Linked DNA regions of Homo sapiens. The protein of the gene in region 2 interacts with the protein of the main gene of each other region in a biochemical or structural test. Each region holds a gene or a part of one and is shown on either strand. Other genes may lie near its edges.

Region 1 (3,754 bases), on a different chromosome or scaffold from region 2:
CAGTTTCCTTGGGTGGAAAGAAGCCAATGATTTGCATGGAGGAAGGGATCCTGGTGGCCTGGGCTGTTCTCTGACCTGAATTGGGGCTTCTTTGGTTTACAAGGGATACTAGTTCCTGGAGGGACGAAGGAGGCTCTGTTTGCATTCTCTGGCCCCTCCCATTTGAATAGGCTGTGATTTTTTAGTTGCCTGGGAATTTTTGGATTCAGGGTTCAGAGACCATCCTCCCATGACTCAGCCTCACTTTGTTCAGCTTGCTGGTTCATCCTTAGCCCTCCCCAAGTCTGGTCCTCTCACCCATCCCCACTAGGTGGATCAGCTGAGGACAGAGCTCATGCAGGAAAGGTCTGCTCGGCAGGACCTGGAGTGTGACAAAATCTCCTTGGAGAGACAGGTGATGGGGGAGGGGAGGATTCTTAGGGATGGACCCCAGGAGGTGAGTAAAATGGCCAGTGGAGTGCTAACTGTGGAGGCTTCCTGTCCCTCTCAGAACAAGGACCTGAAGACCCGGTTGGCCAGCTCAGAAGGCTTCCAGAAGCCTAGTGCCAGCCTCTCTCAGCTTGAGTCCCAGAATCAGTTGTTGCAGGAGCGGCTACAGGCTGAAGAGAGGTGACATAAGCCTATCCTTCCTCCCTTCCTCCCTCCTTTTCTTCCTCCCTCCCTCTTGGCTTTTCTCCTCTGTGGCTCCCTCCATCTTCCACCTCAGATATGGCCAGCCTGGCCTGATCTTTAGGGAACACTTTCTCCTGATAGAGAGCAAAGAGTGTTGCAGAAATTCTGAAATGTGAATGACGTCACTCTCCCTCATTCTTTGAATCTGCCCTGGATCCTGCCCAGTCTAATGGTGGAGCTCATGGCTGAGAGGAGTCCTTGGGGACAGTAGGGGGCCAAGTTAGGATTCCCTTAGAAATGGGGACACTCATAGACATTCTTCTACCTCACCTTAGGGAGAAGACAGTTCTGCAGTCTACCAATCGAAAACTGGAGCGGAAAGTTAAAGAACTATCCATCCAGATTGAAGACGAGCGGCAGCATGTCAATGACCAGAAAGACCAGGTGAGGACATGGCACCCTGGAGCCAAGCAACCTGGGGCAGGTATATATTATATGTTTTCCTGAAAGCCAAGGGAGGCCCTTATCTCCTATAGGTCCTCCAAACTTAGACTTTCCTTGTATAAGGACAGAGATTAGATTGAAAAGACTAGACTAGAGAAGTCATGGTAAGCGTATATATTGAGTGCTTATGATGTGCTAGGTTCTGTAAGTATTACACATGTGTTAATACATTTAATCCCTAAGACAACCATGTGAGGTTAAGGAACTTGCCCAAGGCCACATTTTTCCAGCGGCAATTATACCTTGTCAAGATTGTTATGGGGGAGGGTCCCAGGCCATGGTAGTAGATGCTATTCAGATGTGTGGACTTGGTATCCTGCCCAGCTAAGCCTGAGGGTGAAGGCTTTGAAGCGTCAGGTGGATGAAGCAGAAGAGGAAATTGAGCGACTGGACGGCCTGAGGAAGAAGGCCCAGCGTGAGGTGGAGGAGCAGCATGAGGTCAATGAACAGCTCCAGGCCCGGATCAAGTCTCTGGAGAAGGACTCCTGGTATGGGCTACCCTTTTGCCCTTGCTCCATAGGGACACTAGAGCAGGGAGGGAATGGTCTCTCCTGTGCTGGATAAGGAGGAGAATCTCTAACATGGTACTGTGTAGTCACTTGTTTCTGGTTGGAAGCCAGTATATTTATTTATTAGTATCTCAGCCACCATCCTGTACCTCCCCAAATCTGATTAGTTGGGGATTTTGTGAATAAACTTTAGGCCTTAGAAGAATTGGGGTTTCCTTTGTACAAAAAGGGTGGCTGTCTTAATATTTCTATTTTCCCCTCCCCAACCATTATTCTTCTCTCTGAGTCAGGCGCAAAGCTTCCCGCTCAGCTGCTGAGTCAGCTCTCAAAAACGAAGGGCTGAGCTCAGATGAGGAATTCGACAGTGTCTACGATCCCTCGTCCATTGCATCACTGCTTACGGAGAGCAACCTACAGACCAGCTCCTGTTAGCTCGTGGTCCTCAAGGACTCAGAAACCAGGCTCGAGGCCTATCCCAGCAAGTGCTGCTCTGCTCTGCCCACCCTGGGTTCTGCATTCCTATGGGTGACCCAATTATTCAGACCTAAGACAGGGAGGGGTCAGAGTGATGGTGATAAAAAAAAAAAATCATCAGCAATAAGCTGATAGATGGACTTTCCACTGTAGGAGTGGACATTTCAAGCCAACTGAGCCTTTTCCTCAAGTGCCGACACCTCCCTCATCTCTCTTATAGTGGAAGGATGGTCAGCATTAGGCTGATGGGGACTGAGAAGGATAGGAAGGGATAGAAATTGCCATGTGTATAAAGCTTTATTCTTTAGCCCTTAACCCTAAGGCTCAGGGAAATACCCTATGTTATTGTGCTCCCTGGATTCCTGCAACTCATTTTCCTTCCACTCTGGAGCAGGGTGAGGGGAATGTTATGGGTAACAGACATGCAGGCATGGCTCTACCCATTTCTTTGCACAAGTATGGGGCCCATGTGGTAGTCCCCATACCCCTCCAGTTCCTATATTTTTGTCTTCTTCCTTTCCCCTCTTTGCCATTCCTACCTTGCATTTTTCCTGTCAGTGCCTTAGCCAAGGCAAGGAGATAAGGATGCTCTTCTTGCTTTTTATATCTGCACATTCATACCTCTCCAAAGACCAGCTTTTCCCCAGCCAGGGCCCTCAGCCTTCCCTGCTGCCCCAGTGATTGATTGAGAGAGCTGTTGGGGTTTCTCTGCCAATGACCCCTGGGAGAGGGACTTTGGTAGGGTCATGATAAAGTGGCGGGGGTCTGGTCCTGCTCAGGGTTTTCATCCTTCCTCCTCTCCCTCCTCTGTGACTGTGGATATGGTTATAAGGTGGTTGCACCTGGGAGCCCTGACAACTGGCTGCACAAATTCCAAAAGTAAAGGTGTCAGTCCCTGTGGCCTTCCTTGGGGCTTCTCTGACCACATGTGCCCAACTTCAATAAGAGAACCAAGGGACCCTCATTTTCTGAGGTGCTTGGCTCTGATTCAGGGCTTTGCAAGGGGTTAGAAGCTGACTGTAAAAATGGGAAGAGGCAACGGAAGACATTTATTTCTCCTTTGGATTTTGGGGAGAACCAAGCCCTGGTAGGGAAGAGGTAAGGGGGATGATTCACCTCCATATTTCCTAAGCAGGTTGTATAGGGAGCCGGTGGCAGGAGGAAGGCTGTTTTCACAAATGACTTGTAATGTCGTGATTAAAAAAATTCCTATATTCTTCTGCAAATCAAACGTTCTTTCCCAATCCAATCCAGCCTTGGTTTTATTTTAAATTAAATATTAAAATTACACATTTATATTGAAATCCTTGGTTTGTCTTCTCATTCTTTTTCTTGGCATATTTGGAGGTCCAGATTTTATGAAGTCATATTAACTGTACAGCTTAGGAGCCGAAGCTGGAGTTTTCTTCACCTGACTTTTCAGAGGCCCTTTAGAACAGAGCAGATGGGACCTACGAAACCTGGAGATGTTTATAGCAGCCCCATTCTCTTCTCTCCTGAACAACCTTCTGGGAAGAACAAGGACAGTAAATGCCTTTTTTTTTTTTTTTTTTTTGAGACGGAGTCTCACTCTGTCACCCAGGCTGGAGTGTAATGGCATGATCTCAGCTCACTGCAACCTCTGCCTCCCGGGTTCAAGCGATTCTCCTGCCTCA
Region 2 (3,211 bases):
GAGTCCGCAGAGGGCCGCGCGGCCGAGGCTCGAGGAGGCGCCCGGCGGCCAGGGGCGGCCCGAGGCCGGCAGGCCCGCCTCGGAGGCCAGGGCGCCCGGGCTCGCGGCGGCAGACGCGGCGGACGCGGCGCGGGCGGGCGGGAAGGAGGCGCCCCGTGCGGCGGCGGGCTCCGAGCTCTGCCGGCGCGAAGGCCCGGGGGCTGCGCCGGCGTTTGCCGGCCCGGGCGGCGGCGGCAGCGGCGCGCTGGAGGCCGAGGGCAGGGCGGGTGCGCGCGCGGGTCCCCGGCCGGGCCCGCGACCCCCGGGGGGCGCCCCGGCGCGCAAGGCCGCCGTCGCGCCGGGGCCCTGGAAGGTGCCGGGTTCTGACAAGCTGCCCAGCGTCCTCAAACCCGGCGCCTCGGCCGCCAGCAGATGAGCCGCGCGGCCACGGCCAACCCGCCCGCCCCGGCGCAGGCAGTTCTTCTTAGGTTCCGTCTCACGGCGTTTTAATTTATTTTCACTGTCACACGCATAGATCCACGAGGCACCAAGGCCTGGGAGCATCGACGTGAAGTCCCACGTGTCCGGTGTGCTTGGGCGGCATCGCATCAACGCGCAGACCTAAACTGATCCTAAAGCCCCCGGTTCCCTTGTGGGGGCTTTGGCAGCTATGGAAGAACCAAAATAACGTGAAGAACATCACAGAGAGACAGTGCAGTGTAGCTTTAGTTTAAGAAAAAAAAATATTCCTCCCCACTGCATGAAGGACTTGGATGTCATCCAAACTTTATATCAAGAAACAGGACAAAGTTAAGAGCAATCACAAACTGGAATATCGCCTTAAAAATCAAACTGCACGGAGCAAGCTGAAACTGAGACAAGATTATATCTTTTAATTGATCTAAAGCGTTGTAAATAAATTGTTCTCGACATATCTAGACAGGGGTTAAAGGGTTTCTTTGACACATTCGGAACCGTTCACCCATGACATGTTTCCATGGCTCACCCTTGGCATCCATCCTCGGTGTTAGCAGCAGCGTTCCCTGCCTCCTGCAGGATGACTTAGAAATCTAGTGAGTTTCTTGGTGTGATGCCATTTTTATTGCCCTTTCTGTGATCAAATCATATTTCTGTACATTTTCAGTGGTAGAAAAAAAAGGTTTTAAAAATTGTATCCTAGGGAACAGTTTGCCATAAGTCAGAATTTTGCAGTTTAGCTCATAGATCTTAATTGGTTTTTCTCTAAAATATGAATTTTATAATTGAAGGACCACAATTTGTTTAATCAAGATAGGCAACGCTGCAGTTCCTTTATGAAGAGGCTTTTCTGTCGTCCCAGGCTAGCAGAGATGGATAGCTTCTTTGTCAGCAATGTGATTTCACTTATTTTATTGTCTTATTTTAAACCCTGTCTCCATGACTTCATTTGCACTTTGACAGAGCAGAGGCAGAGTATTTGTCTTATATTTCTCAGATTATAATATTAAAAAATTACAATCAATTTATTTTCATTAAAGAACGTGAGTCTTTTTAGCATTCCTTTCTGCTTATCCTTCTTTCCTTACCCTTTGTCCTTTTGTTTCCATTAGTTTTCTTTCGTCTTGTATTCCTTGCCACTTTATTTTGTTAGCAACTTCTAGATGTTTATCTTCATGGATCTATGATTGACCTCCTAGTAAAATTCTAAGTCTTGCCTTTCTTCCCTGCTGTTTTAGCATTTCTTTGTAAAATGTTAGCTTCAATTAATTAGCCATTGGTACTTACTGTAGCTACACATATTAAAAGGCAAAGTGTTTCTGAAGGCAATTTCTTTTTAATATGCCCGAATGAATGAGGCTTCATCCTTTCCATATTCTTACTCTTTACAGGAGTTCAAATGCAAATAAGCTCCACCTCCCTGCACTTGTAGTCTAAAAAGTAAAAGGGGCGATCAGGTCCATCTCAAAGGTCACACGTAATAGCCTCCCTGGGCTGATCATTCCCTCTCCTTGTAATTGCAGTATCCTGAGTAGCAGTTTAATTTTCATCAAACATCGGAGTAGTTTAGTTGTTTGACAGGAGGAGAATAAGGCTGAAAGCCTCAAGTGAAGGATCTTGCAGCTTGTAAAAGCAATTTCCAAAAATGAAACCCATTCATCGTAAACAAAAGCACAAACACTTGTAGCAGTTTATAATGCTTTTGGTTTAATCTCAATTAGTCTTTCTCCCCTGGACTAGAAATCCAGTATAGTTTGCCATTAATTTATTGAATCTGGTTTTGGACAATGCTTCTGTAGTGTAGCTGCACGTCCTGGTACTGTATCCTCTGACTTTATTTTCCATGTATTACAAAAGGAAAAAAAAATTGAGATTACACTGGCATAAACTCTAGTTTGCACAGTTCACAGCTACTACTTGTGCAGTAATTGCTTTATGCGGCTGTAATCCATAACCTGTGAAGACAGCACATCATCTAAATCCCATTCCAAATAATATTTGTGTAGTGTTAGCTGTGAATTTACCCTGTACAGCTGTATCTCTATAAATATAATTCCATGTATTAATAGTCACAGAAAGACTGTAAGTGAGCAACTATTTTTATGAAACGTACCACTATGGATAAATTAACTTTTACAGAAATCTTGTTTACTGTATGATATTCTAAAACACTGTCAAATAAAATATATATCCAAAAATCTTTTCTTTTTCCAACTATATAGGCTGTGTGTTAATTTGAAATAGATTATTACTGGGGGTTAACTTAGTTTTTCAAAACTGCAGTTTTCATCGACTTTTTTTATTTTTGGAAGTATAAGTTTTAATGCCCCAAATAGGACTTTTTTGAAACTTGAATCTAAAAGCAGTGGCATTACATGGGAAAGATCATTGGCTTTTTTGGCCTAAGTAAACAGTTTTCTCAGTCTTGTTGATATTTGCTTGTCAGGTTACTACATCATTCATGAATTGGCTGTATATTTCTGTTGCTTGCTACATTGATCGATACTTTACCTTTTTTCAAAAAGGATTTAAAGTATCCATCTGTAATAAATTCCATCACATTTTTTCCTTTTAATTCTGAAATTTTCTCATGCAAAATCCCAAGGAGTTCATGCAGAAGCCAACATAGCAAGCAGCAGTGAACTGGTCCAAAATGAATGGTTGAATATAGCTTTTGTCATGTATTGCGATGCCTGTGGTAGGAAGGGAGAGTTCTGCTTGGCCCTTGGGTGATTACAACCCTGCCATCGAGGAG

Evidence for each region. The genes of interacting proteins can lie anywhere in the genome.
Region 1: the proteins of MAGI2 (region 2) and CGN interact in a test that uses a peptide from one of them, tested with the Homo sapiens proteins (one large-scale study listed by IntAct).

The regions. Positions count from the first base shown.
Region 1 is NC_000001.11:151,535,290-151,539,043, forward strand, and holds the end of CGN (cingulin), read left to right. Parts: intron 1-310; coding exon 311-394; intron 395-490; coding exon 491-609; intron 610-947; coding exon 948-1,056; intron 1,057-1,440; coding exon 1,441-1,604; intron 1,605-1,915; coding exon 1,916-2,057; 3' UTR 2,058-3,403; downstream 3,404-3,754. UniProt on the Homo sapiens protein: Probably plays a role in the formation and regulation of the tight junction (TJ) paracellular permeability barrier.
Region 2 is NC_000007.14:78,016,519-78,019,729, reverse strand, and holds the end of MAGI2 (membrane-associated guanylate kinase, WW and PDZ domain-containing protein 2), read left to right. Parts: coding exon 1-415; 3' UTR 416-2,675; downstream 2,676-3,211. UniProt on the Homo sapiens protein: Seems to act as a scaffold molecule at synaptic junctions by assembling neurotransmitter receptors and cell adhesion proteins. Plays a role in nerve growth factor (NGF)-induced recruitment of RAPGEF2 to late endosomes and neurite outgrowth.